Regions from separate parts of the Homo sapiens genome. Here regions 1, 3, 4, 5, 6 and 7 are each reported to be linked to region 2. Evidence: microRNA targets listed by miRTarBase, many of them from high-throughput screens and not tested one by one. Region 2 holds a microRNA gene; each other region holds the end of a gene's coding sequence.
The links. Region 2 holds the annotated microRNA hsa-miR-548z (CAAAAACCGCAAUUACUUUUGCA, at 1,370-1,392, opposite strand). A microRNA usually pairs through its seed, bases 2 to 8, with sites in the 3' UTR of a target mRNA and lowers its output. Matches are read on the target gene's strand: a 7mer-m8 pairs with bases 2 to 8, a 7mer-A1 pairs with bases 2 to 7 and ends in A, and an 8mer does both.

Region 1: the mRNA of TMEM158 is a reported target of hsa-miR-548z. Seed matches in the 3' UTR shown: 7mer-m8 at 3,171-3,177 and 7mer-m8 at 3,021-3,027.
Region 3: miRTarBase lists PRR3 as a target of hsa-miR-548z. Seed matches in the 3' UTR shown: 7mer-m8 at 2,164-2,170.
Region 4: miRTarBase lists CMTM6 as a target of hsa-miR-548z. Seed matches in the 3' UTR shown: 7mer-A1 at 3,464-3,470, 7mer-m8 at 3,217-3,223, 7mer-m8 at 2,724-2,730 and 7mer-A1 at 1,922-1,928.
Region 5: the mRNA of ARLN is a reported target of hsa-miR-548z. Seed matches in the 3' UTR shown: 8mer at 3,192-3,199.
Region 6: miRTarBase lists ZNF829 as a target of hsa-miR-548z. Seed matches in the 3' UTR shown: 7mer-A1 at 3,450-3,456.
Region 7: miRTarBase lists ZNF681 as a target of hsa-miR-548z. Seed matches in the 3' UTR shown: 7mer-m8 at 2,443-2,449, 7mer-A1 at 3,208-3,214, 7mer-A1 at 3,464-3,470 and 7mer-A1 at 3,547-3,553.

What each region holds. Positions count from the first base shown.
Region 1 is chr3:45,221,474-45,225,553 of GRCh38, forward strand. It overlaps TMEM158 (transmembrane protein 158), which reads right to left. Exons shown (of 1, transcript NM_015444.3): 1 at 2,993-4,080. The coding sequence ends at 3,652. Among named protein-coding and RNA genes, the nearest start is that of TMEM158, 2.8 kb to the right of the region's middle.
Region 2 is chr8:27,047,502-27,051,581 of GRCh38, forward strand. MIR548H4 (microRNA 548h-4) reads right to left here and starts at 1,462; the gene lies at 1,352-1,462.
Region 3 is chr6:30,561,739-30,565,818 of GRCh38, reverse strand. It overlaps PRR3 (proline rich 3), which reads right to left. Exons shown (of 4, transcript NM_025263.4): 3 at 3,695-3,985; 4 at 2,096-3,430. The coding sequence ends at 3,324. Among named protein-coding and RNA genes, the nearest start is that of PRR3, 6.5 kb to the right of the region's middle.
Region 4 is chr3:32,480,232-32,484,311 of GRCh38, forward strand. It overlaps CMTM6 (CKLF like MARVEL transmembrane domain containing 6), which reads right to left. Exons shown (of 4, transcript NM_017801.3): 4 at 1,081-3,866. The coding sequence ends at 3,729. Among named protein-coding and RNA genes, the nearest start is that of CMTM6, 21 kb to the right of the region's middle.
Region 5 is chr4:119,295,188-119,299,257 of GRCh38, forward strand. It overlaps ARLN (allregulin), which reads right to left. Exons shown (of 2, transcript NM_001001701.4): 2 at 1,232-3,592. The coding sequence ends at 3,592. It overlaps USP53 (ubiquitin specific peptidase 53), which reads left to right. Exons shown (of 19, transcript NM_001371395.1): 19 at 1-331. Among named protein-coding and RNA genes, the nearest start is that of ARLN, 3.4 kb to the right of the region's middle.
Region 6 is chr19:36,887,930-36,892,009 of GRCh38, forward strand. It overlaps ZNF829 (zinc finger protein 829), which reads right to left. Exons shown (of 6, transcript NM_001037232.4): 6 at 195-4,080. The coding sequence ends at 3,563. It also overlaps a transcript of ZNF345 not described here. Among named protein-coding and RNA genes, the nearest start is that of ZNF829, 26 kb to the right of the region's middle. RefSeq lists an enhancer at 3,498-4,080.
Region 7 is chr19:23,740,170-23,744,169 of GRCh38, reverse strand. It overlaps ZNF681 (zinc finger protein 681), which reads left to right. Exons shown (of 4, transcript NM_138286.3): 4 at 1-4,000. The coding sequence ends at 558. Among named protein-coding and RNA genes, the nearest start is that of ZNF681, 17 kb to the left of the region's middle.

The sequences.
Region 1 (4,080 bases), not on the chromosome of region 2:
TCTGTGTAAAAGAAATGCAAATGAGGCCGGGCGCGGTGGCTCACGCCTATAATCCCAGCACTTTGGGAGGCCGAGGCGGGCAGATCATGAGGTCAGGAGATCGAGACCATCCTGGCTTACACGGTGAAACCCCGTCTCTACTAAAAATACAAAAAATTAGCTGGGCGTGGTGGCAGGCGCCTGTAGTCCCAGCTACTTGGGAGGCTGGAGCTGGAGAATGGCGTGAACCCGGGAGGTGGACCTTGCAGTGAGTCAAGATCGCACCACTGCACTCCAGCCTGGGTGACAGAGTGAGACTCTGTCTCCAAAAAAAAAAAAATGCAAATGAGAAGCATTTTTGTGATGTGCTCCTCATATGTGCCTAATGACCACATGGCTAGAACAATTCTGCACGTTGTTGGGTAAATTGCCTGTCACAGGTGGGGTTCCTCAAGAAGCAGTCTGTGAGATAGAGATCACTGTGCAAGAGGCTTATTAGGGAGTGTGGATTAAGGCCTGTGGAAGGGAAGGAATGGGAGGAGGCAGACGTGGACAGAGGGAGTAGTTCAACTCCATGAAATCTCCATGGACACCTCAGCCAGCCCTGAGGGAAGTCAGTCTTGAATGGAAGAGGGGCGGGCGCTGGAGGGTAGTGGAGGACCCTTCAGAGCTGCCCCAGTTGTGGCCAGAGGGCTGGGTCTTTCTGCCCCTGTGTTGATCAGTCATTGGATGTGGTGCCCCAGGTAGGAGGTGCGGCTTTAGACAGGGTGGTCTCTTCCGCTGAGGCAAGACCCAAAGAAGACTAAAGTGTTCAGATCTGGGGCTGGAGGCAGCTCTCTGGATGAAAGCAGAAAACTCAGTAAGGCAGCCTTCGGCAGCAGCTGGATATTAAACAAGGGGTATCCATTCTCCCCAGGAGTAAACTTTCTCTCAGGAGAAGCAAAAATAACTGACAATGATGATTTATCCTGGGGACTCCGCTATATCATTTGCAACTCAAGCTGGCCCCACGAAGCTTTATAAATGGGCTGGAATCTGGGGGTGCCATGTGCACATGTACACAGGCTAAAATGGCACACGTCTTTTCCTGTCATAGAACTCCTGACTTATCCTTAGTAAATTACGTACTTGGAAGCGTTTCACTACTGAGATGATGCAAATCAAACTGACTAGAAAATACAGACCCCACAGATGAACTTGTCAAGGCCTGACTTCCTTTACCCAGTGGGCGACTACAGCTGAACAAGATCAAAAGGACCTACAGGCTCTGTCCTCACTTTCTGGGACTAACTAGTCCATCAGTGATACACACACACACACACACATAGCCCAGAACACACATGCACACATGCAGGTTCCACTGGCAATTCTGAAAGTCAATAGATGTTGATATTTCAATCACCCCTAAAAGGTAGATGTTAGGGCCCATATATAGAAAGTTCCATTAAGTGCCTGAGTGTCTCATTTAAAATTAATGCTATCAGGTTCTTTGGGGTTTGTAGCTACACAAAATCTGACATTGGCTAGGGTAGGTCAACAAAACGGTGGACCTTGAGCAGTGAGCTCCTAATTTTCCTGGGAAAAGAAGTTTCTAGTGACGAACAATACCATTCAGGGAGGCAGAAATCCTGGATTTAGTCTCAGCTCTGCCTCGTGTAGCTGTGTGATTGTAGACAAGATGCTCAATCTCTCTGAGCCATGGTATACATCTTGGAAAAAAGCAGGGAGAGTGATTACATGTGTGTACAAAGAATACATAATGTGTCTCCAGAGTTATAAATGCTATGATTACATTAAATTGATCAAGGTTAGCAAAATTATTGACTTTTCTCCTGCCAGTTACCACAGGGTTAAAAAATGGTGATGCTTACAACCTACAAAGATCAATACTCCACCCTCTCCCCTCTCAGGGGCTGGTACCTGCTACAGATATCTCAGGACCTCAAAGAGTCAAAGGGGCAGCTGAAGCTGCAGGGCAATGACCCAGCCTCTCCTTCAGCCAGATTGCTGGGAAAATAAGCATCCCATTTATTTGATATAATAGACATCTCAAGATAAAAGGAGACAACCTACATTTGAGGGTTCCATTCCACTAGAACACAGCAGAGCAGTTCTCAAACTGGTAATGCATAGGAATGCCTTGGAGGGCATGTGAGAACACAGATTGCTAGGCTTTATCCCAGAGTTTCGGATTCTATAGGTCCTGGGTGGAGCCCAAGTTTTGCATCTCCAAGTTCCCAGGTGATGCTGATGTTGCTGGTCCAGGGACCAGGCTTTGAGAACTATAGCTCTAGACCAATCTCAGATATGCTTGCAAAATGAGGACGAGATGGAGCAAGGGAAAGCAGCTTTCAAAGTCTCTTAAAAACGCTTTTAAAATAATTTTTAATATTAAGTCTCTTTAAGGACTTTTTACTTATTCTTCTGAAAACCTGGAAGAATTTGAAACTACTACACAGCAGACACTGTAACATGGAAACCAAGAGTGAGGAAAATCTTGTGATCATTAACTATTTATCCCCCAAGAGTTTATCTTTTTAAAAAATCTAAATGCCAAAATAATATCTCAGGTTTTAATACCAGCTTTTGGAATGTGCTTATCTGCTAAAGTTCATGCATATGAAAAGAAATCTACATGCCTTTTAAAGTGAGTCATTTTCGTGAAAGCCATCCAGCTCAGAGGAACTATTGATTTTACCATTTTGATGCTTGCCTGGGTGTTTTGCAGAGCTTAGAACAATGAGCAAAAAGTTAAATCATATAAAACTGTGTTTGCCACCGTGACAGGTGGGGGGTGGATGGGAACTGAGGGTCAGTGTGGTGAGATGCAAGACAATCGCCATCAGGGCAAATAATACTGTTTCCATCTATCTCTCACAGCCAGGTAAAGGAGACAGAAGTAGCCCTTCTCTAACTTTTCCGAGATTCCCTTGCTCAGGTTTTAGGGTAACGTCTTGCAATTCTGGGATTCCCTTTCCCAAATCAAATAAAGAAAAAGCTACATACACATCTCTGGAGGAAAATGTCTGTATTAAAAGCCAAAAAACCACATAAGTACAAGAAGAAACGCCCACCAGGCCACGTCACTGGATAGATCAACTTGGAAAAGGTTCATAAAGTTCATTTTCAGCGGTAACAATATATCGGTGTTAAATCCTTCCCATGCCCTCCCCCCAATTTTAAATAAATTAAAAAACCACAAATTTCAAATACAACTATGTTCAGATACAAAGAGCTTCTCTTACTACAGCAATAGCAATTTAATCTTTTTGTTTTGTATTTTTTTTACTAAAACTTTCATTTAAAACAGTTATTAAATATATAAAACAAATACACAGGATTTGGTCATTTTCTGCCATGAATCTAGGGCACGTGGGTGCGGGGAAGGAGTCGGGCAGGGGGATGCAATAGAGGGGAAAGGGCCCCATTTCCCTCCTCTCCGTCTTCGGAGCTGCGATCCCACCCTCAGTCCAAGGGCTTAAACATCTGCTTTTCGGAACTGGAAGCGCAGCACAAACCTTGCTTTTCAAAGGCGCTGGGGTCTCTCGGCGGCCCCATCTCGGGAAGAGGAACTAACGATAACTACAGCACGAAGCACACCGGCCGAGTCTCCGGCGGGAAAGGCACCCGCGCGCGCGGACACAGGACGGACACAGGGAGGAGCGGAGCGGGTCACTTGGTCGCCACCCCCGAAGTGACGGCCGCGGCGGCGGCGGCAGCGGCGGCGGCGGCGGCGGCTGCGGTGGTCCCTGCGGGCACTGCGGCGGGGGTGGCTGCGGTGGTGCTGGCGGTGGTCCGGCGCTGTTCCATGCCGTTGGGCAGGAAGCCGGCGATGATGGGCACCGGCCAGATGAGGGCGGCCACGCTCCACACCACGATGACCAGGGTCATGAAGCAGGCCACCAGCGTGGACTCAATGGGCTTACGGTTCAGCCGCCAGCCCGGCTCGCCCTGCAGCTCCTCCAGGCTGAAGTCTAGGCAGCAGAAATGCAGCGGCTCGCCCTGCAGCCACAGCGGCCCGGGCGGCTCGGCCGCGGGGTAGGCTGGCAGCGCGGTGGGCGCCCCGGCGGTGGCGGCGGCGGCGCTGGGGGCGGCGGCGGG
Region 2 (4,080 bases):
AATGCAACAGCTTTAATCCTAAGATTCTTCCTAGATTCACAATATGTGTGTGCCCTGGTCCCAACCCCTCCCTACTCCCCTCATTTGCCCCCAGGCTTCGTGAAAGTGATAGCAGAATCAGCCATGCTGATTCCTCAGCCCAGTGCACTGGATGGAAGTTAATGCCCAAAACTGATTTATCTTCCTTGAGGCTGGGAAAAGGGATGAGTTGGGAAAGCGAACAACTAGAGGTGTTTATGAAGGAGGAACATCTGGGATGCCCGTGGTGGTAACGTGGAGTGCTGCAAAGAGGACTATAGAGAAGGAAGGCAAAATGCTGTTTAGAATCCACAAACGTGGAATCAGTGCATCTCATTTGCTGGCTCTTACCATAAAATGAGCATCAGTATCCCTGCCCTGAGCTTGGGTAGCTTATCAGAGAAGATCGCTGACACTTTTGGAGCCCATCTGAATAGCTCCCTCTGAAGCCATCCAACTTGACCATGATCTGGACTTCCTACTAGACCAGTATTTTGCCTTTGCCTGATCTTTCAACTTCAGCTTCTGCATTTTCTTCTAATTAGCCCTTTCTTACCCCACCAGCACTGCCAAAATGGAGACTTCCTGTCCCAGTCTCAGACCTTGTGGAATTCACACCTCCCCTTTCCATCACCACCTCCCAACCCTGCCACAATATGGACTACCTGTTGTTACGTTGAGAAGATTAAGACTACACAGGCAGTTAGTTTAGGGAACACCTTCTACAGTTGGTGAAATCTATTTTTAAGATCATGAAATGTCATACTACTGCCATATATACTAATTTCCTCCTCCTCCTTTCTCTAAAACTGTCACTCAAGATAAAAGTCAGCTGGGCCGGGCAGGGTGGCTTACGCCTATAACCCCAGGATCTGGGGAGGCCAAGGCTGGCGGATCACCTGAGGTCAGGAGTTTGAGACCAGCCTGGCCAACATGGCAAAACCCCATCTCTACTAAAAATACAAAAATTAGTCAGGCATGGTGGTGCACACCTGTAGTCCCAGCTACTCGAGAGGCTGAGGCTGGAGAATCGCTTGAACCTGGGAGGTGGAGGTTGCAGTGAGCCAAGATCACGCCATTGCACTGTAGCCTGGGCGACAAGAGTGAAACTCCATCTCAAAAAAAAAAAAGGGCAACTGGTGAATGCTGGGAATATGAATATCAGGGCTTGTGCTTGTTATTTTGGGGAATGACAGAAGACAGACCCAGGCAGTGTTTTTTCCCTGCATTCATCCTTTTTTCCTTTTTCTTTATTTCCCATTTATTTTATTTAAGTGTGATTTAGTTTGTACAACATTTATAAGAGGAATGGAAAATAGACAAGAAGTGATGATAGCAAGTATTAGGTTGGTGCAAAAGTAATTGCGGTTTTTGTCATTAATGAAACGTAAAGTAATTAAAGTAATGACAAAAACCGCGATTACTTTTGCACCAACCTAATAGCTTTGGAAATGGAACAACGAAGGATCACAAGTTTGGCTTCAAGTTTTCTGTGGTACACTTGCCACAAAAAGCAGGGGGCAGAGGAAACTTTTGGAGGCGATGGATATGTTTATCATTTTGATTGTGATGATATCATGGGTGTATATGTATACCCAAGCTCATCAAATTGTACACATGAAATACATGTGGGGTTTTTCTGTCTATCAATTTATACTTTGATAAAGCTATTAAAAAGAAAAAGGCAGAAATGAGCTCAAATTTTAAACTGTCTTTATTCTTTCATTGAACAAGCATTTATGAAGGGCCCGCCATGTGCCAGCTCTGTGCGAGATATTGATGTGACTCTGGGAAGGCAAGCATTGTCCCCAACCCTGCACATCTATCAGGGAAAGCAGAAGCAATTGCCATCACGTGCTAGGACAGGGAAGTTTGGCACCATGGAAACGTGTAGCAGGGGCAATCCTGGTGTGGGGGTGGGTCAGGATTGTAATTCCCAAATTGGAGACTGACTCACACAGCTATCAGTGACAGGCAGAACAACCTCCACAGACTTCAGCCAGAGGGGGGAATTAGCCATTTTCTTTTATATCACCGTTTTATTCACACATCAGCATCCCCTCATTCCCATCCACTTATTCCTGAAAGCAGGCCCTTTTTGAGGCTCCAAACATAGTAATTAAACAAAGGGGATTCTAGAAGGTGGACAAAGCATTAGAGACAGCTTCATTGTATATAAATGCCAAATTTTCTGCATCAGTAAGGTTGCAGCTGTGACAAGAATTAGGCTGCTTTCTAGGTCATATATTTTCTAAAGCACTAGGCAAAAAAAATATTAACACATGAGGGGAAAAGAAATAAATAGACTCAATTGTTTTAAAACCTTATGAGTAGACCATTTTTTAATAATACAATGAATACTGCTTATTGAATAAACAAAGAAATTATTTGTTAATATAAAATAGAGCCACATTCTCTGGTTAAATCGTGAATGTGTAAAAAATTAAGTTCTCAATTTAATCTGTTCTGCACAAGATTCTGAATGAAAGATTAATTGGATATAATGACACTGATATTATTTTCTGTATAATAATAATTCTATACATGTTTGGCAATTTATAGTTGTAATTCTATGAATCTGAATTTTTAAAAGTTAACTACAAATAAACAGTCTCTGTAAATGAGATATATGGGGTAGGAGACTGCTTACATGGGTATGGCTAAAGCATAAATTTGAAATAATATCTGATTCATATCAGAATTTATCAGCCTGGGCTGGATAATGTTTAGTCACAGATGAGACACAGATAAGAAAATTAACACCAGATTGGTAATTAAAAGTGCTTCCTGGGTATGAATGACACCTCTGAATGCAGCATGAAATAATTCCTTTTGTATTCTGCTCCACGTTTTCTTTCATCTTGTGTTTGGACATTAGCCACAGAGGGATTGATGTTTACCGCAAAGAGCCTGGAGTCAGAAGATCTATATTCTGGTCTCAATGCTGCTAGAAGTTAACTGTTAGATTTTTAGAAAAAATAAGTTCTAATCCTCTGTTCAGCTTGCACATCTGCAAAATGAAGATACTTTTTAAAGCAAAATTGAGAAAGAAATAGAACAAAATTATGCATGCAAAAATGCGGTGAAAATTTTTAGTTAATGCAAATATAAAATATCCAAATAGTCTATGCACAAATATATTTATATATCATAACAATGGAAACTAAATTATAATTGAAGGGATATCAAAAATAGAATTATAGTATTGAAACAAATAAAAGCCAACAAGATTGAATATGTGTGTTTGTGCACGTATGTTTTAAGTGGTGAGATACTTCTAGATATTATGTTGTTAACATATTACCAAATTGTTTAACTCATATATGCGTATAGTTTTTGGTAATATGAAACTGTGCATAGAAGGAGATGATCAGTAATTTATTTGGCTGTCTAGTACATGTTGAGTCACTTCTCCATATAAAAAATTAATAAAGAAGGCTAATAAATGGGCTCCTCACGTGAGGGCTAAAGACAAAGACAGATGCAGACGCTTTGTTCCTGAAACCTCTAGCTTGGAATATGTTATAGTCCTGAGACAAAGCCATTCACAATTAATTCCAATGGTAAATCTCAGTTGAGCCTCGGGGGTGTGAAGGGGGACTGATACAGCATAGTCGGTTTGCCATAAATATGCCTAAATCTATAAAAGATTCATCACATTAAAAGAGGTTTTTTCTGAACACTATGCTCATTTATCAGATTATTTGGAGATTATTTAGTATGATAAAATACAGAAAATACCTCACTACATTTGTAAAATCTTTTCAGAAATCAATTTCTAAGTTTTTAACAAAAATGTCATGATAAGACTTCTAGTACTATAAGATGTCATAGACCTTCTGGTATAGGCACAGCAGTCTGAACAAACACCGAAATAAGAGGGGCACCTTAAAATCTCTAGTCAAACGGACTGGTAGAAACCTTCTATGCAATCTCAGTCTACTAAGAAGTAGGTTTCTACCTAATGTAAAAAAACCAATACTGAAAATCAAGGAAAAGAAAGAAATAGGAACAAAACAAACAAACAATAAGACAAACAAACAAAACAAACAGTAACAAGAT
Region 3 (4,080 bases), not on the chromosome of region 2:
ATTTCTCCCTCCTTCTAGATAAGATTAAGAAGTAGTCATCTTTCTGACAGCATCTAAGCCAGAACAATTTCCTGTTTCTTTTGAAATCACCAAACACAAACCCTAATCCTGTCATTCCTAGCCCCCTTTTAGGGAGATAACCTCTGTAGAATTAATAAACTCAACTTAAATGCTTGCCCATAAGTTGAGGAGTTATAAGTTAACTTTTAAGAAGTTTCTTCCGGCTGGGCGTGGTGGCTCACACCTGTAATCCCAGCACTTTGGGAGGCCGAGGCAAGCAGATCACCAGGTCAGGAGATCGAGACCATCCTGGCTAACACGGTGAAACCCCATCTCTACTAAAAACACAAAAAATTAGCTGGGCATGGTGGTGGGCGCCTGTAGTCCCAGCTACTCGGGAGGCTGAGGCAGGAGAATGGCGTGAACCTGGGAGGCGGAGCTTGCAGTGAGCCAAGATCATGCCACTGCACTCCAGCCTGGGCGACAGAGCTGAGACTCCGTCTCAAAAAAAAAAAAAAAAAAAAAAAGAAGTTTCTTCCCAGACAACTGGTGTTCTCAGCCCTTCCTCCATCCTGAGGCTTTGAACATGGATGAGGAAGCCAGAGCTTCACTTTGGACAGTGAATAGAAGCTTGTGGTTGTGAATCTGAAAGTTGGGGGTTGAGGTTCTGAATACTCAGGGACCTTGTAGTGGTGGCATTGTCACACATCTTGGATTGTTGATTGTCCACCTCTTGACCTGTGAGAGAAATAAACTTCTATCTTTTTAAAAATTATTTATTTTTATTTTTATTTTTTATTTATTTATTTTTGAGATGGAGTCTTGCGCTGTCGCCCATGCTGGAGTGCAGTGGTGCGATCTCGGCTCACTGCAAGCTCCGCCTCCTGGGTTCACGCCATTCTCCTGCGTCAGCCTCCCGAGTAGCTGGGACTACAGACGCCGGCCACCACGCCTGGCTAATTTTTTTTCTATTTTTAGTAGAGATGGGGTTTCACCATGTTAGCCAGGATGGTCTTGATCTCCTGACCTCGTGATCCACCCACCTTGGCCTCCCAAAGTGCTGGGATTACAGGCGTGAGCCACCGCGCCCAGCCATAAACTTCTATCTTAAGACTTCTTTTTAAATGGCAGTTACATAAGCCAGAACTACCTGGAGAAATCTGATACTTTTATTTTGACCTGTAATTTTCAAATGTCTACTTTTCTCCAACTCTACTACCCAAGTCTATGTCACCATCATGGCTCACTTGTACTACTGAAGTAGCCAGTAGCCTTCTAATTAACTTCCAGGTCCAAGGTGGGCCCTCTCCATACAAGCTGATTTTTTTTGAAAAGCCAGCCTAAGCCATGATACTCCTGTCTAAAATTCTTCAAAGGCTTCTGTTCTAAGAAAAGAGCCAAATCTTCATGTTTTCCAAGGCCCTGAGTGGTCTAACTCCTCTTTCTTCTGCATCATCTCCCACTGTCCCTAGGTTTCTTAGCTCCTCTTCCCCTAGGTCTTTTAGCGAAGACCTTTGCCTTGACTTCCCTCTCCCACCCCACCTCCTGTTTATCCTTTGGAGCTTGTCTCAGTTGCATCTCCTACCCTGACTCCCTTTATTACACAACTCTCTTTCACCCTCTTTTCTTCCCTGTCTTCTTCCCAGCACTTTTGACAGGTTTAACTTTACATGCTATTTGTGATTATGAGAAACCTGTCTTCCCTGTACATTTTAAATCCATTGGCTTTGGCTGTCAGTTATCTCTAGTGCTTGGTATATTGCCTGGCCCACAGGCATTCTGCAAATTGCTGCTGAAAGACTCCTTCATCATTACCACTCCATAAACACAAACTCTGCAAAGTAAAATATTTAAAAATAACTCCACGGACACCTGGCCTTTCCTTTTTCTTACAAAACTTTGCCCTTGAACATAAGGCAGCTTGTTCTGGTTGATGCCTACAGGCTAATGGAACCTCCATTGGTTTTTTTCAGCCTGGAAGAACCTTAAGCTTTGTCATTCCCCATCACTAGTGTGTATGAACTAAAGAATAAGCTGACTCCACCAGGTGAGAACAGCTTCATCTGCAACTCCAGAGATGACTAGAACACAGGGATTAAATAAAATGCTGGTTTCCACTGCATTTATTACTAATATAAAAAAAGTTAAAAAGAAAAAAAAAAAAAAAACCTCATTCTCAGTTCTCCAACAGCTCTCACCCCTCCCTCTTGCCAATACAACTCCTGACCCATTTCCTCAGGGCCAGTTCAAAACTGAACCTGTTCACTGCTGTTTTCACAGAAAACAACCAGTGCCAGGGATGTAGGGGAAGAGGATTGGAAGAGGGCAACAGTACTGTCCAGCTTCTACCCAAAGATAGGCAAGGTGGAGATTCACAGAATTCAAATGAATGGACTGGTGGCCTCACAATGACATAGTCTAATTAAAATGGGCTGGAAGGGATCTAGGTAGGATAAAGCCATTGGAGGCTTTATAAGACATGTCATGGGTCTGTGTCAGACTCAGAATAACCAACAGGAGAAGAATGGGGAGGGCCAGGGAGGCAGTCTGATGGAAAGTTCACAATTCTCCCATGTTGGGAAGTGGGAAAGTCCAGAGGGCACCAAGCGCCTCACTCATTTTGGCAGGAAAACTTATTCTAGTGCTGGGAAGTCACAAAAATGCCACGGACACTGAGAAAGGCTACAAGGGGATGCACAGTTTCACAAAGCACGGTGATCATAGATAGACCATAGCGGTGGGGATCATGCTACTGACAGAGAAACTATGAAATCCAAAGGCAGGGAGAGTGGCCTTTTAGGAAGTAACTCTGCACCAGTCACCCAAACTTGACCCCAGGTTAGACAACCTGGCTGAGTTTCACAAGCAGCTGACAACATTGGGGGTAGGGAATGTCACATAAAAAGGACTTAAAACAAGCAGCTAAAAGAAGGGAATGGTAGGAAACCGCTCCAGGGCTCTCAGGAATTGAGGGCAATACTGGGGAACAGGTGGACAGATGCACAAGAAACAGCACCAAAGAGGTTTCCTGTTCAGCAGTCATTTGATGACGGGAAAGAAGATCCAGGAGGCAACTGAAAGGAAGCAAAGATGGGTCCCAAAGGCGAGTCTCTACAGGCTGGATCAGAAGAAAGCGCGTATGCCGCGCACCAGTGATGCAACACCACTCTGGACCCCACACGGGGGAAGTGGTGGATGGGATGGGTGTGTCACTGACTGAGGGTGTTAGAAGAGCCTCACAGTAGCCATCATAGGGCTACAGAGAAATAAATGGCCGCTAGGTCACAGAGAGCTCCTTCCAGCCTGGATGGGAAGGCACAGTCTCACAGAGGAGGTCCATTGACGCCTGGATGGTAGAAGGCACAGAGGTCCTCATATCGACAGTGGCCCTTTTTGGCAAAATGTCGGCAGACAGGGCGGTCGGATTTGTCTGTGAACAAGTGAAAATGGAACAGTTAAAAATTTGAGCAACAAAGAAAACAAATACAATGAAACGCAGAGACAGAAGGAGAACTGATTTTCTACCCCCTACCATTTCCAGGTATTTTGGAATGGTAGTCTTTCTCCTGGGAGAAATAACATTGAGGTCTACTTCTGCTTCAAAAGCAAAAAGGAAAGCCCAGAGAAGATTGTGAATGATCTTCTGAAAATTAGGTCACTCTGGGAGTAATGGGCATAACAAAATGGACCTCACCTTCCATAACCTGGGGGTCATCCTTGGGCGGGCAGGTATTCTTGATAAGAGACCAGCTTTTGAGCCTTCGAGGGTTTCTCTGTTCCTTGTGAAAGCTTCCCCTGGTGGGACCCCCATGGCCTGGCCCCGGAAAAGGAGGTTCTGCATTGACTCCCCACCAACCACGACCATATGGGCTAGACCTGGGGCCAAGCCCTCTCCGAATTGGGCCTCTACCCCAAGGAGGAGGTGGGAGACTCAGCAGTGGTGGAATCAGTGGTCCCCTTGATCCTGGAGGACCTCTGTGAAGAGCTGGAGAGAGAGAGAGAGAGAGACACAGAAAGGTGTCTAATGGGCAGCTGAATCCTGATAAACCGTGATTAAAAAAATTTTTTTTATTGAAGAAC
Region 4 (4,080 bases), not on the chromosome of region 2:
AATTTTAAAAAGTAGCTAAATATAAAAATGTTGGGGAAAAGACAATACTTCTCCCCCCACCCCGTTGTTTTTTTGTTTGTTTGTTTGTTTTTTTGAGATGGAGTTTTGCGCTTGTTTCCCAGGCTGGAGTGCAATGGCATGACCTCGGCTCACTGCAACCTCCGCCTCTGGGGTTTGAGCGATTCTCCTGCCTCAGCCTCCAAAGTAGCTGGGGTTACAGTCATGTGCCACCACACCCAGCTAAATTTTGTATTTTTACTAGAGATGGGGTTTCACCACATTGGCCTGGCTGGTTTCGAACTCCTGACCTTAGCTGATCCGCCTGCCTTGGCCTCCCAAAGTGCTGGGATTACAGGAGTGAGCCACTGCGCCCAGCCTCCCCCTTTATTATATCAATTTCTATGACACACATTACTGTACTTGTAGAAAAATTTGGCCACTGAATTCACCAATGTACCCAGATGTCTTATGAAATAAGTTTTTCTTACTGTTTAAGACACATTTAATTAGATTTTCTGCTTCTTGCAGCTTATTGCATATTGATACAATGCTCTTTATCAAAACAAAACTCAACTCTAAACTCTGAAGAATGTACAAATTCCAGTGAGTTCTTGATGACTATAAAGACCCTGTTATTCTCACACAGGGTGGAGGCAGGAATTTCGCAAACTACACAAATAGCTGTAGTTTTACCAGCACCACCCTAATAATTTTGCTTCACACTTTCCCAATCATTGAACAGTTCCTAAGATAATGTGCCTATTTTGTTTTTAGCATTGTTAGCCACATCTAGAAATGTGACAAGGAGTCTAAATTGCTTCTTTGGAAGTATTTAAAGCCATTTGTAAGTCTTCCTCTGTGGTTCCCTAAAAATGTTGTTTAAATGTGTATTCTAACTTTCCAACAAGAGGGACAGTTTATGGATGGGAAATGGATTTGTTTCTTTTCTATCCTAGATATATCTAAAATCTAGTATTCTATATAGGCACTCAACAAGATTGTGCAGCCAACTCCCACAACTACAGAGACAGCTTTTCATTTAAACATCACACTTCTGTAATAAACACTTACAAAGGTAAGAACGTTTTAATTAAATGGATTTATTTAAAAAGACTATAAAATCTGACATCAAGAGAGATAAAAAAAAAAGACCCATAAGATTTAAATTGACAAATATAAAATGATTGGCTACAATGTAAAAATACATTTCCCAGCCCCCAAACAAAACACAAGTATAGTAATTATAAAATTTTTGTACTGTGAGTTCATTTCTCTTATAATTCTTGAGAACCATTCTAAGCAATCTATTTGTATAAAATATAAAATTTATCATAACTGTTAATTTAAAAATTATTTTAAATTTGAGTTTATTGAATTTGCCATTTTTTTGTACATAACAGTGGTTTCTGGTCCCAAGTTCCCCTTGAACTTATTTACTACAATGGTCTTTTTACTCCTATTTATTTCCTTCTACAATAGAAAAGAAAGGCTAACCATTCATGGGTCCCATAAAAAACAATGTGAAGGAAGGTTCTAAGAGTGACCAAATATACCAGTGAACATACTATCTTTCTGAAAAAGAAAGAATTAAGTGACCAACTAAGAGATCCACTTTTGCACCAATGAAACACATGGAGGTGAAACCTCAGAACAAGCGGAGCTTAAGCTCAATGACAGTATGTTTTATATGACAGGCCAGCTGAGAATGTATCTGTCAATCCTGACTAAGCCCAATACATGGGTGGTGACCCTGAGGTAGCCCAGATGATATGCTCTGAATTTTAGATAGGTCTAAATCACAATGGTACAGTCTGATGTGAAACTTTAGTCTACCTACCATAAACTCGTTTTCTGAATCAGTCCTTATTCATAATTAGACCCAAAACCCAGCTATTTCTCCTCTCTTAGATGACATGCCCAATAAAAACAGCATCCATGATTGGTTTCATTATCTCCCAATTAAGTAGTGGTGACACCACCACTAACACTAGTATCCAAACTCTGATACAAATCCTAAAGGTATTGAGTCAGTAAGACAGAGCAGAAGCTATGTTGGGCCATACTGACCAATTTCTGAGAACCACATTAGCCACATTCATGCAATTAAAACCCATCTAAGACACACAAATGGCAGATGAGAAAAAAAAAAAAGGATGAGGTCATTAAACTTTATCACTGGAAACATGATTCCACTGTTTCAAATAGGAAACCTACCCTGGGAGACTTCCACCAAAGTGCAGAAGGACCTGATGCACGGGCTCATCATCTTAACACTAGAGTCCCAAGTCAAAACTCTAGGAGGAGGATAAGAAAGGTCTAGTCTGTGAATCACCTGGACAGAAAGGTCATATCCCAAGTGCCCTGCCTATCTGTGACAGCTGCTAGCCAACAGACAATTCTGGTTATGAAGTTATCTCTTGAGAATGGCTTGATTCTCTTATGCCACCAACAGTATTAGTCTGGGCAGGGTTCCCTGGATATTTACTTTTTTTTTTTTTTTTTTTTGCCAAAGACAAACTAGAGCAATGCCTATGTAAGAACAAGGACTCTCAAGATCCTGCTACACAGTATTCACAATCAAAAGGGCCCAAGATTCAGGACCACCTAAAGACAACTGACAAAAAGTGTCAGAGCCAGAGGCCAACCTCTGCTAGATGAAGCAGCAGCACATGACTCCATTTCTATCTGATAAGGAGACAGAGAAGAGGCATCTCGAACAGATGAAAAACCAAAGGCTGGTGTCCTAAAAAAAACAGATTGGCTTCAAAGAAAACACTAAGGAAGACCCACAGAGCTGTATTAATTTTAGTAAAAATAATCATATGCCAACAGGGGAATTGAACCACTTTCTAAATCATAGTATGAACTCATCTCTTCAGATACTTGGTAAGTGGTCAAAGCTTGTTTTTATAATTACTTTCACTGTCTTGGGCAAAAAGTCTTTCTTATCTTTGGTCCTTAGGTGTGGTATCAGTTTCTTCCATTTTTTTATGTGTTACAAAACAATCTTTTTTTTACTTGACATCAACAACCAAGGTGCAGTATAAACACGAAGTTGCTGATATTGTTGCTTTTATACACATAAAATACCAACATCTCCCATACATTTTATAGGCTATACGAAGGTCTCAAAGAATTAATAACCGTTATCCAAAAATATTATAACATTTAAGGCTGAGTGAAATACAGTAAAGCCTGGTAATATATGTTAAGGAAAAAAACCTAGACCAACATTTTAAATATTGGTTTCTTAAATATGTTAAATTCCCATTAACAGAACATAATCTAAGCATCAAAACAAACAGCTAAGCAAATTAATTTAAAAATAAAACAATTTCTAAGTAGATGAATATAATCACGATGTTTATACAGCTATAAAGCATAATTTGGAAGCTAAGCCTAGTAAAAGAATGACCTGTAACAGAATGACAGAATCATTTATCAACCGTTGAGCTGTGTGATTTAAAAACAATTGTTTTCTCCTCCTCCCACCAAAATCTCCATTTGAGATAAGTTTCAATTATTATTTAAAAAAAAATTTTTTTTAACTTATCTGGCCTACTTTGTGGTGACTGACACAATATTGATAAAACTGCCTTCTTGACCTTCCCCTTGCTCTCCAAAAGAAGTGGTTTAAACAATTAACAAATTTTACAAGAGCTTCTGCCAGGGCTCAGGCACCACAATGCAGGGTCACTACCTTAGGTAACATCTGCTCCCCAGAGTCTTTAGGCATTAAGTGGCTCAGTGAGGGCTTCAGCCCTAGTGGTATTTTCAGGTTTTCTCAGCTGGGACTCCTGTCGTTTTTCATACAGCATAGTGATAAAGTCAAGTAGGAACATAAAACTTGCTATAAATCCAAACACCTGAGGAAAAAAAGGAGGAAAGGTTATATGAGAATTTTGGAATATAATCTTACATTTCCTACTTGGCTTGGAGAATGTTTCATATAAACAAGATGTTCATGAATTTTATCTTATACACGACTACTCTTTAATGGTAAAAAAAATTTTTTTAAGTCATCAAAAAATGGAAAGAAGTTATAAAAGAAAAACTTCCAGAATAATGGCTATTAGTCAA
Region 5 (4,070 bases), not on the chromosome of region 2:
CTCTTTTAAGTACTGTCCAGTTGAAACCTCCTGACTCATGTACTACTACACAAACTAGAAAATGCCCATTTATTTTTGTTGATTCAACACTCCAGATACAGATTGATACATATATACTAATCATTTTATTTCATGTAAAAGTTTTACATCTAGGGTGCCTATTTATTTTTATAGATGCTTTCATCCAGTTATAAGCTTATTATAACTTTGTAAATATTTCAGCCAACAGTTGTAATGTTTAAAATACTTACCTTCAGAATGTTATATTTTCATGTGAAATCAATTTCTTCTAATTCAAAAAAATTTTAAGATAAACTGATTTTTAAGTTTATATGATTGGACTTCTCTTTGCATTCATGAACTGTGTGTCACCCTCCCACCAACGTGGATTATTTTGGGACATGTTAAGTCGCGGGTACTTGGAATTTCACTGATCATAAACGGTTATCACAGGAGATCCTAGGAGTTAAACTCCAGCAAGGTCTAAAGCACAGCTCCTTAGAAAAGGAGTTGGCAAACTTTCTATAAAGATAGAAAATAATTTAGGCTTTGTGGACCATAATATTTCTGTAATAACTACTCAACTCTGCCTTTGTAATGTGAAAGCAGCCATAAACAATATGTAAATGAATGAGCATGGCTGTTTTCCAGTAAAACTTTGTCAACATAGAAATCCAGATTGCATATAACTTTCATGTCATGAAAGTTTTTTTTTTCTCCATTTTAAAATGTAAAAAATATTCTTAGCTCACAGGCTGAAGTCTCCAAATGTACTCCCATGCCACTTACGGACTGAGTATTTGCAGCTCTTTACATCCTAAAACGTTCAGGTTAAGCTCCCTAAAAACTATCCCTTGCAACTGCTAACAAGCCAGTTCATTTCAAAAGGAACTACTAAAACAATCATTTCACTTTATATAAAATGGTGTGAAATTTACAAAAGAATTTATCAGAGTAAAGTCACATTTTCTTTTGATGTCTTTTTTGTTTTGTTATCTTAGCAAGTTTGCAACTTTTCTTGGCGTTCCATTTATCCACTTCTTAAAAGCCTTCAAACTGAGGGCAATGTAAGCAGTCACTATACTTGCTATGGCACAGTTTAATGGTAGGTACAATTTCTTACCTATAGGAAAGATTCAGCCTTCATACTGCCACCATTTTGAAAATGCCAATTACAGTCATGTCATATTACTAAGTCAGGGTTTGCCATAGAAAGAGAATCAACAGGATATATATAGAAATAAATTTATTATGAGGGATTGGCTCTTGTGATTATGGAGGCTGAGAAGTCCCACAATCTGCTTTCCGCAGACAGTAAGCCCAGGAAAGCCAATGGTGTAGTTCCAGTCCAAACCCAAAGGTCTGAGAACCAGGGGCCCTGGTCCATGTCTGAAAGCCAGAGAATCAGGAGAACCAATGTCCAAGGATAGAACATGGATGTCCCTGTTCAAGCAGAGAGAAGACAGAATTTGCCCTTCCTCTGCCTTTTTATTCCAGCTAGGCCCTCAAGGGGTTGGCCCACCCGCAGTGGAGTGGGTGGCTCTTTTTTATTCAGTCTACTGATTCAAATGCTAATCTCTTCTGGAAACACCCTCATGGACAAACCCAGAAATCTGGGCATCTCCTAGCATAATCAAGATGACATATAAAATTAACCTTCACACCAAGATCTCTCCATCTTCACCATACTAGAAATTTTCAGAATATTTGGTAATTGTGGTAGTAGGCTGATTTTAGGCTCAAAAAGGCAGTATGGATTATGATCGGAAGTCTGTGTGTGACCTAACAGTAAACTATGTGAGAACTGTTAATCACCTCACAATCACACCACCAGGTAATTTGTTAGAATAAAACCAAACTCAGCTATATAAGTAAACATTTATTAGATGAAACCATTAGCAAGCAGTGCAGAAACAGTTCACACAGTTGATTTGGTAAACTCAGTGAAATCCCAGTTCTGTGTTCCTACAGATGTTTCAACCATACCTTCCATAGATGGTTCTCTTTAGGTTGATGTGACAACACCTTAAAAGCATAATTGCTAACTTTATAGTCAGCAATTATATTCCAGACTTGACTAACCCTAAGAACGATTTTGAAAGGTAGGAAGATATACAGAGAGTTTACCAGATCTTATGCCCTGTTTAAAAGGCGGGGGAGTATCCCCAAAATATTTAAGACAATTCATATATGCTGAATGCAACTAATTTAAACAAAAGACCACTTCTACCATTCCTCATGTAAAGCCTTTAGGGCTAACAGGAATATTTTCTTTTTGAGACAGGGTCTCTGTTGCCCACGTTAGAGTGCAGTGGCCCCATCTTGGCTCACTGCAACCTCCACCTCCCGGATTCAAGCAATTCTCGTGCCTCAGCCTCCCAAATAGCTGGGACTACAGGTGCATGCCAACATGCCCAGCTAATTTTTTTGTATTTTTTTGTATTTTTTAATAGAGATAGGGTTTCACCAGGTTGGCCAGGCTGGTGTCACAACTCTTGACCTCAAGTGATCTACCACCCTTGGCCTCCCAAAGTGCTGGGATTATAGGCGTGAGCCACTGTGCCCGGCCAACATTAATATTTTTTATTAGCTACTACAGCTTAGAGTAGCTGCTATGGGAGTGTGGCCTTTTTGATTAAATACTAGCTGATCAACCCTAGAATATAAATTCTTGTTTTATAACATTTAGATTTAAATAACAATAAGAATGTAAGCTCCATGAAGGCAAGAATGCCTTTTTGTTTTGTTCACTGCTGTGTCTAAAATAATGCCTGGCTCAAATATTTGTTGAATGAGTAAATATGCTGACTTTGCTGAAGTATTTAAGCAAGTTACAGATATTATACAAGTAAATATTTTGGGCACAAGCACACTTAATGAAACAGTAAAAAAAAAATAGGTTTGAAACACATAATCCTTCGTTATAGGAGGCTCAAGAGTTTAAAAGGAAAAAAGGGGGAAGATACCCAGGTAAGAGGGCATGCATGCTAGCTTTCCAATACTTTGATATTACCTGCTTTTTCTAAGACTGTATCAACCTGTCGCCCACCCATAACCTATCTTTTCATAACAGAGTCCAACTAAACCTAAAAATTAAAACTGGAACCTAGCAGCTTCTACGCAATCTAAGAATACTTTGTTCCCTCTCTCAAAATCTTTCCCTGCTTTTGAATAATTGACTTTTGAATTCATAAAAACCTTCCCTTATTAATCATCCTATTACTTGCATCATAGTAAACCCTGATCAACTCTTAAAACATTAAAAGACATTACTATATTTCTTAATGAATACACAAGACCTTTAAGTACAAATGCTTTTATATTCAGCCCCTGTAAAGCCATCAGATGTTTGAAAGTTTTTAAACACGAACCAAAGGGTTTAATTTTAAGAACTTAGCTAGGAATGGGTGAAATCCTACCCAATTAATAGAGTTCTGCAAATTAGTAACAAAGTGTAAAATGAAAGGAAGGGTCCCTTGGAGATGTGAAATTCTTCTATTGAGAGTCCTGTCTTCTTTATTCAAGAAGTTTGTAGCCATTTTCAGAATTCACTCAAGAACCAACTTCTTAATTTAGATATCAGCGAACAAGTCTGTAAAAAGCAAGTATTTGTCAGCAATATGTGCTTTATCTTCCCAGTTTTTAACACTTTATGCCTATTTACATATTGATAAAAAGAAAAGCCTAGAACATTTCTTGTAAGGCCTCTATTTTCTATCCAGAGCTGAAAGTTCAGGTCATAAAAACACACACACACACAAAACCCACTGTATTTGAGATTATCAGTCTCTACCAAAACAGGGAGGGAGAGTAAAACTCTCCCTTTACAAATGGCTTGACAGAGAATTTTATAGAAATCCCTATCCCTTTTGCCATCCTCCCATTAATCCCTCTCGCTCCCCTGCCACCCCTTTTTTTGAGACAGGGTTTGCTTTGTCTCCCAGACTGGAGTATAGTGGCACGTTCACAGCTCACTGAAGCCTCGACCTCCCCAGCTCAAGCAATCCTCCTATTTCAGCTTCCCAAGTAGCTGGGACTACAGGCGTGAGCCACTGTGCCTGGCCCTCTCT
Region 6 (4,080 bases), not on the chromosome of region 2:
GTGTACAGGAAAAACTGTAAATTTTACTACATGTGAAAAAGATTTCTGCTTATTAAAAAATACCAAAGAGGCCAAAAGATTAGGAAAAGTTACTGAAACAACATATGACAAACACTAACCTTAATATATAAAGAAATATATATATTTCTTAAATATGTAAAGAAATTTGTAATCAGTAAAGATGACCAACAACGTGATGGTGAAACAGAAGAGTTTATAGTAACATGAACATGCCTGTTAAACATTTGAATAAATGATCAGTTTCTCATAACATAGAAATAGAAATGAAATTATAAATTGTGCTGTCTTGTTTGATCAAAAGTTTGATAAAACATTTAATAGTATACATATTCCAGGGAAGATGTTTCCTGTTCTATCTCCCAACACATACAGTGTTATTACCACAATATAGTGTCAAACCGTCAATGCAAAAATCTTTAATCTCCTTGCCCTGATGATATCTGTCTCTACAATATCCAGTACTCCCACGTCAATAAAATTTATACACCCATTTTCTGTTCCCACCTACCACACTAAATTCTTGTGATCTTTCTACTCTGCACTCTGAAATCCACAGTAACTTATTAGCATAATGCCCCCACCTTTTAAAAAAGCATTCTTAATTTGCCTTTTATTGTTTCTTAATTATAGGTTTAGGAAGTTACAAGGGCAGTTGTGTTACATACACATATAGTGTAGTGGGGAAAGTGTTGGCTTTTAATGGACTCATTACCTAAATAATGTACCTTGTACTAAATAGGATTTTTTTTGGTTTTTTTTTGAGATGGAGTCTGGCTTTGTTGCTCCCCCGGCTGGAGTGCAATGGCATAATCTCGGCTCACTGCAACCTCCACCTCCCACATTCAAGCAATTTGCTCTGTTGCCCAGGCTGGAGTGCAATGGCACTATCTCAGCTCACTGCAACCTCCGCTTCTCAGGTTCAAGTAATTCTCCTGCCTCAGCCTCCCAAGTAGCTGGGACTACAGTGCCTGCCACCATGCCCAGCCAATTTTTCTATTTTTAGTAGAGACAGGGTTTCGCCATGTCAGCCAGACTGGTCTCAAACTCTTGACATCATGTGATCTGCCCGCCTTGGCCTTGCAAAGTGCTGGGATTACAGGTGTGAGTGCCTGGCTTATTTTTAATTCTGTGTATGTGATGAATCATGTATTGAGTTGCATATGTTGAGCCATCCTTACACCCCAGGAATAAAATCCACTTGACTGTGCTGTTACTATCTTTTTTATGTACTGTTTGATTTGGTTTGCTAGTATTTTGCTGAAGATTTTTGTGTCTATTTTCATCAGGGATATTGGCTTGTAGTTTTTTTGTGTGTTTTATCCTTGCCTGGCTTCAGTATCAGGATGATACTGGCTTTGTAGAATGAGTTAGGGAGGATTCCCTCCTATAATTTTTGGAATAGTTTCAATAGTGCTGTTACTAGTTCTTCCTTGCATGTCTAGTAGAATTCAGCTGTGAATCTGTCTGGTCCTGGGCTTTTTGTTTTTGCAAGATTTTTTTCTATTACTGATTCAATTTCAATACTCAGTAGTCTGTTGAGGATTCCTATTTCTCCCTGGTTCAATCTTGGAAGGTTATGTGTTTCTAGGAATTTATCCACTTCCTCTAGGTTTTCTAATATGTGCATATAGTTTCTGCTGATATTTTATATGTCTGTGTTATCAGTTATAATATCACCTTATCATTTCTGATTGTATTTATTTGAATCTTCTTTTTTTCTTGGTTAATCTAGCTAGTGGTCTGTCAGTTTTATCTTTGCAAAGAACCAACTTTTTCTTTTATTGATCTTTTGCATTCCTTTGTTCTCAGTCTCATTTTTGCCTGCTCTGATATTTGTTATTGCTTTTCTTCTGCCAGCTTTGGGTTGAGTTTGTTTTGTTTTTTCCTAGTTCCTTGAGATGTGACGTTAGGCTATTCATTTGAGATTTTTCTATCTTTTTGGTGTAGGCATTTAATGCTATAAAATCCTCTCTTAGCACTGCTTTTGCTGTATCTCAGATGTTTTCATGTGTTTTGTCTCTATTTTCATTTATTTCAAAAAATTTTAAATTTCCACCTTAGTTTCATCATTGATCCAAAAATCATTCAGGAGCAAGCTGTTTAAATTCCATGTATCTGTTTTGAGAGTTCCTCTTGGTATTGATATCTAGTTTTATTCCACTATGGTCAGAGAAGATGTTAGATATGATTTTGTTTTTTTAAAATTTATTGATACTTGCTTTGTGGTCCAGTATATGACCTATTTTTGAGAATGTTCCATGCACAGAAGAGAAGAGTATATATTCTGTGGTTGTTGGGTAGAATGTTCTTCAGATGTCTGTTGGGTCCATTTGGTGTAGAGTCCAATTTAAGTCCAGAGTTTCTTTGTTGATTTCTGTCCCAGTGATCTGTCTAGTGCTGTCAATGGAGTGGTGAAGTCCCCTGCTATTGTTGTATTGCTGTCTATCTCTTTTCTTAGGTCTAGTAGTATCTGTGTTATGGATCTGGGTGTTGCAGTGTTGGGTGCATACATATTTAGGATTGTTTTATCTTCTTGTTGAATTTATCCTTTATCATTATAAATGACCTTCTTTGTCCTTTTTAATTTTTGTTGGTATAAAGTCTGTTTTGGCCATCACGGTGGCTCACGTCTGTAATCCCAGCACTTTGGGAGGCTGAGGCGGGCAGATCACTTGAAGTCAGGAGTTCAAGACCAGCCTGGCCAACATGGTGAAACCCCGTCGCTACTAAAAATACAAAAAAAAAAAAAAAAAAAATTAGCCGGGCATGGTGGCGCATGCCTGTAATCCCAACTACTTGAGAGGCTGAGGCACAAGAATCGCTTGAACTCAGGAGCTGGAGGTTGCAGTGAGCTGAGATCACACCACTGCACTCCAGCCTGGGCAACAGAGCGAGACTCTGTCTCAAAATAAAATAAAATAAAATAAATTTGACTAACAACTTATGTATAAAAGGAAATTACAAATATATTAGACAAAATCATTCTAACAGGGTATTATGGGTTGAACTGTATCCCCTAAAAAGATATGCTGAAGTCCTAACCCCTGGTACCGGTAAATGTGACCTTACTTGGAAACAGGGTCTTGGCAGATATAATCAAGTTAAGATGAGGTCACCAGGTAACCCCAATCTAACCTGACTGGTGTCCAAATAAAAGACATACACAGAGATACACAGCGAGAATGCAATGTGAAGATGGAGGCAGAGATTGGAATGGTGTATGTAAAAGCCATGGAATGCCAAGGACTGCCAGCTGTTAACAGAGGTTAGGAAAAAGGCATAGAACAGATCCTCAGAGTCCTCAGAAGGAACCAAAACGATCAGCACCCTTGAGTTTAGATTTCCAGGCTCTAAACTATGAGAGAATAAATTTCTCTTGTTTTAAGCCACCAAGGTTTTGGTACTTGGTACTTTGTTATCGTATCGTTTAAAAACGAATACATAGGAGAACCTTTGATAATATGTATCCTAATTTGTTCTCCTTACCTGTTTTAAAAAAATTATTATAAAGGTTAACAAAATGGTCTTACTTTACTGTCATTCAACCAGTATGAATTCCCTCATGGCGAATGAGGTCAGAGCGACTACCAAAAGCCTTTCCACATTCCTTACAGTCATAGGGTTTCTCACCAGTGTGAATTCTCTGATGTCGAGTAAGATTTGAGCCTTTATTAAAGGCCTTCCCACATTCATTACATTCATATGGTTTTTCATCTGTATGGATTCTCTGATGTTGAATAAGTTCTGAGCTCTGAATAAAGGCCTTTCTACATTCTTCACATTCATAGAGCTTCTCACCAGCATGAATTCTGTGATGGTTAGTAAGTGTTGAGGCACTATTAAAGGCCTTCCCACACTGCTTACATTCATAAGGTTTCTCACCAGTATGCATTCTCTGATGCTGAATAAGCCTTGAGTGTTGAGTAAAGGCTTTCCCACATTCTTTACATTCATAAGGTTTCTCACCAGTATGAATTCTCAGATGTAGAAAAAGTTGTGAACTTTTAGTAAAGGCTTTTCCACATACTTTACATTCATAGGGTTTCTCACCAGTGTGAA
Region 7 (4,000 bases), not on the chromosome of region 2:
CAGTTCTCAAACCTTACTACACATAAAAGAATTCATACTGGAGAGAAACCCTACAAATGTGAAGAATGTGGCAAAGCTTTTAACCAGTCCTCAATCCTTACTACACATAAGAGAATTCATACTGGAGAGAAATCCTACAAATGTGAAGAATGTGGCAAAGCTTTCTATCGATCCTCAAAACTTACTGAACATAAGAAAATTCATACTGGAGAGAAACCCTACACATGTGAAGAATGTGGCAAAGCCTTTAACCATTCCTCACATCTTGCTACACATAAGGTAATTCATACTGGAGAGAAACCCTACCAATGTGAAGAATGTGGTAAAGCCTTTAACCAGTCCTCACACCTTACTAGACATAAGAGAATTCATACTGGAGAGAAACCCTACCAATGTGAAAAATGTGGCAAAGCTTTTAACCAGTCCTCAAACCTTACTGGACATAAGAAAATTCATACTGGTGAGAAACTCTACAAACCTAAAAGATGTAACAGTGATTTTGAAAACACTTCAAAGTTTTCTAAACATAAAAGAAATTATGCTGGTGAGAAATCTTAGAAATGTGAAGAATGTAACAAAACCTTTAAAAGTTGTCACACTTGATTGTGCATAAGATAATTCATACTAAAAAAAAACCTACAAGTGTGAAGAATGTGGCAAAACTTTTAACCAATGCTCACACCTTATTGCACAGGAAAGCATTTGTACTAGAAAAAAATTTCAAATATACAGAATGTGAAAAAGCCATTAATATCTGTTCACATCTTACTCAACATCAGAGATTTCATACTTAATAAAAGCATTATACATGCAATTACTGTCAAAAATCTTTCAGAAAATATAAGCCTCTAAAGTGAAGAGTATTCATTTTGAAGACACACATTATGAACATAAGGAGGGTTGTGGTACCTTTACTTGTATCACAGATCTCATTGTACACATTTTGTGCTAGAGGAAAACCATGGAGCAGTTGCTTAAACTTTGTGCAACATAAGGAAATTTATATTGGAGAAAAACCCTGCAAATGTAATAAATTTGGGAAAACATTTTTTCAAAAACGACAGCTTAGAAAACACTAGAGGGTTCATACTAAAATCTATTTTTGCAGATGCAGTAAATATGAAAAAATATTTAATCCAAAATTCTATGTAAATATCAGATAATTCACAGTAGAAATAGTTAAGGCACTGACACTTCAGGCATTACACTAAATCAGATTGCTGAGTATAGAAAAGAATCTAAAACTAAAGTTGGTAAATGAATTATTTGTATATAACATTATAAGAAGTAGAAAATTTTTGCAGAGTTGTAACTACATTCAAACTATCCTTTGAAAAAAATTAGGTTTTATGAAAAGTGAATAATGTCATTTAACTCAAGTTATGCTCTTCATTCCTATTGTATTCACATGTGAAAGCATGTGACTTAATTGTTGCTGCATCAAAGATGAGAGATTCTTTGTTATTAGGTGTGCATTATTTACGACCTTTTTTAGTGAAAGAGTTAAGGACATTAAAATGTAAGATGCAAGATGAAAATGTAAGTGGAGAGGCTCTTTCTGGTTAATTTATAATATTGACTGATGCATGAGGTAGGAGTTCAGATAAATATCCTGTGTTATATTGAGAAAAAAAATTTTCTGGTATATCATTTTACTAATTGTACTTTTTTTTTTTTTGAGACAGAGTTTTGCTCTTGTTGCCCAGGCTGGAGTGCAATGGTGTGATCTTGGCTCACCAAAACCTCCACCTCCCAGGTTCAAGGGATTCTCCTGCCTCAGCCTCCCGAGTAGCTGGGATTACAGGCATGTGCCACCATGCCCGGCTAATTTTGTATTTTTAATAGAGATGGGGTTTCTCTATGTTGGTCAGGCTGGTCTCAAACTCCCGACCTCGGGTGATCCACCCACCTCGGCCTCCCAAAGTGCTGGGATTACAGGCGCGAGTCACCATGCCTGGCCAATTGTACTTTTATGTAATAAAATGTAGTACATTTTAAAATTTTTAGATAATGTGTGAACTTATTAATCAGGCTTTTTAAAAAACATGTTAAGACCATCGTGCATTCAATGAAGCATTATTATGCCATTAAATTTAACTTATCCCATCTTACTCAAGGGTATAGGTAAATGATGGTAACTATACACTATTTAATAAGATAATGGACTAACATTTCTAGTAATCTGTTTTGCCAGTGGCTTTAAATTGCAAATAAGTCAGAGAATATTATTCCTGTAGGTTGAATTATTACTCATTTTTTCTTATTTAAACTTATTTTTCTTAATTTTTGTGGGTACATAGTATGTGTAAATATGGCATATATGGCATATTTTGATACAGGTATATAATATGTAATAATTACATATGGGTAAATGAAATATTCATTACCTGCAGCATTTATTGTTTGTATTTGTTTGTATTATAAACTAATTCTGCACTTTTCGGTTTTTTTTTGAGACGAGTCTCACTATGTCACCCAGGCTGTGCACGCCTGGGTGCATTGGCGTGGTCTCAGCTCACTGCAACCTCCGCCTACTGGGTTCAAGTGATTCTTCCGCCTCAGCCTCCTGAGTAGTTGGGACTACAGGCGCATGCCACCACACTCAGCTAATTTTTGTATTTTTAGTAGAAACAGTTTCACTACGTTGGCCAGGTTTGTCTTGAACTCCTGACCCCATGATTAGCCCCCTCGGCCTCCCAAAGTGCTGGGATTACAGGTGGGAGCCACCACACCCAGCCACTTTTAGTTGTTTTCAAATGTACATTAAATTGTTGTTGGCTACAGGGTCTCTTTTATGGTCATAAGAAAACAATATAAACAAAATGCATACATTTCTGAGACCTGAATTAACATTAAAAAATTGTTATATATTTTTCTTCAAACATGTTGCCTCTCTGCCTGCAAGCACATACAGACTATTAGTTTTGATTTACACAGAGTTAAATATATACATATATTACTTTAAAGATAAAGCTTGGGTTTAAAAAAATTATGGAGTAAATAAATGCCTTCTTTGCGAGTATGAGTTTCTACCTAGTTTCAGAAGAGCAATATTGAAACAAATCAAATTATTTTAATTAGATGATGACTGCAAAACTAAAAAAACTTAAAAATGCTGAAAACAAATCCATACTCTCTGCTTTGTATTGAATTGATTACTGTAAAATTGTATGGCTTATAATTCAGAATCTCCCTATGCAAATTTTTGTTTTTACTTGCCTGATTCTTAGGCTAGACCCATAATTTTCTTGTGTCTTACATTTTTTTCTCTTATTTTATATAAGATGCTATGTGAGCTGGTCAGAGATTATAAAAATAATTTTTATAAAATTAGTGCAAAAAATTTAGATTTAATTTCAAAATTAGTGTATTGTTATATTTTATGTTGTTAGAATATTTTATTTTGTTCTTTTAATTGGAGAACGCTGTATAAGCCTACTTTTTTTAGTTTTTGTTCCTTTCAGTTTTTATAATGAAAATAAGTAAATATTGATTGAGCCCATTTATTTAGGTGAGTACTAGGGGGGCTTCCTAAATCATGAGGATGTTTTTATATATAAATATAGCAAACAAACATGACAGTGCTTTCTGTGTCACAGATGCTTTATAATAAGCCATAAATATTCCTGTTGGAGTTAGTTTGTAACTTCAAGACAGAGATGGAACATATCAATTGTGAGAAATAACATTGATTTTTTATGTGGAGAGGACATTTATTTTCAGGCTGCAAAGCTCAGTTTTGCTGAATTAAAAAATTGTGCTTCTTTTATTTCCTAATTGTCTTAGTTTTGTTTGTCTTATTATGTGTATTTCAGCTGTGTATGCATCACAGCCCTCCTTTTTGCTGTGCTGTGGCTACAGTTTTCTCACTGTTCTCTTCACACCATGTCATTTCACATGGTATATTGTAGGTTTTGATGAGAAATCGGTATTTTTAATGCACTGCAAGATTGGTTTTAACTGGAGATTTTGCATATCAATATAATTTTCTGATCAGTTA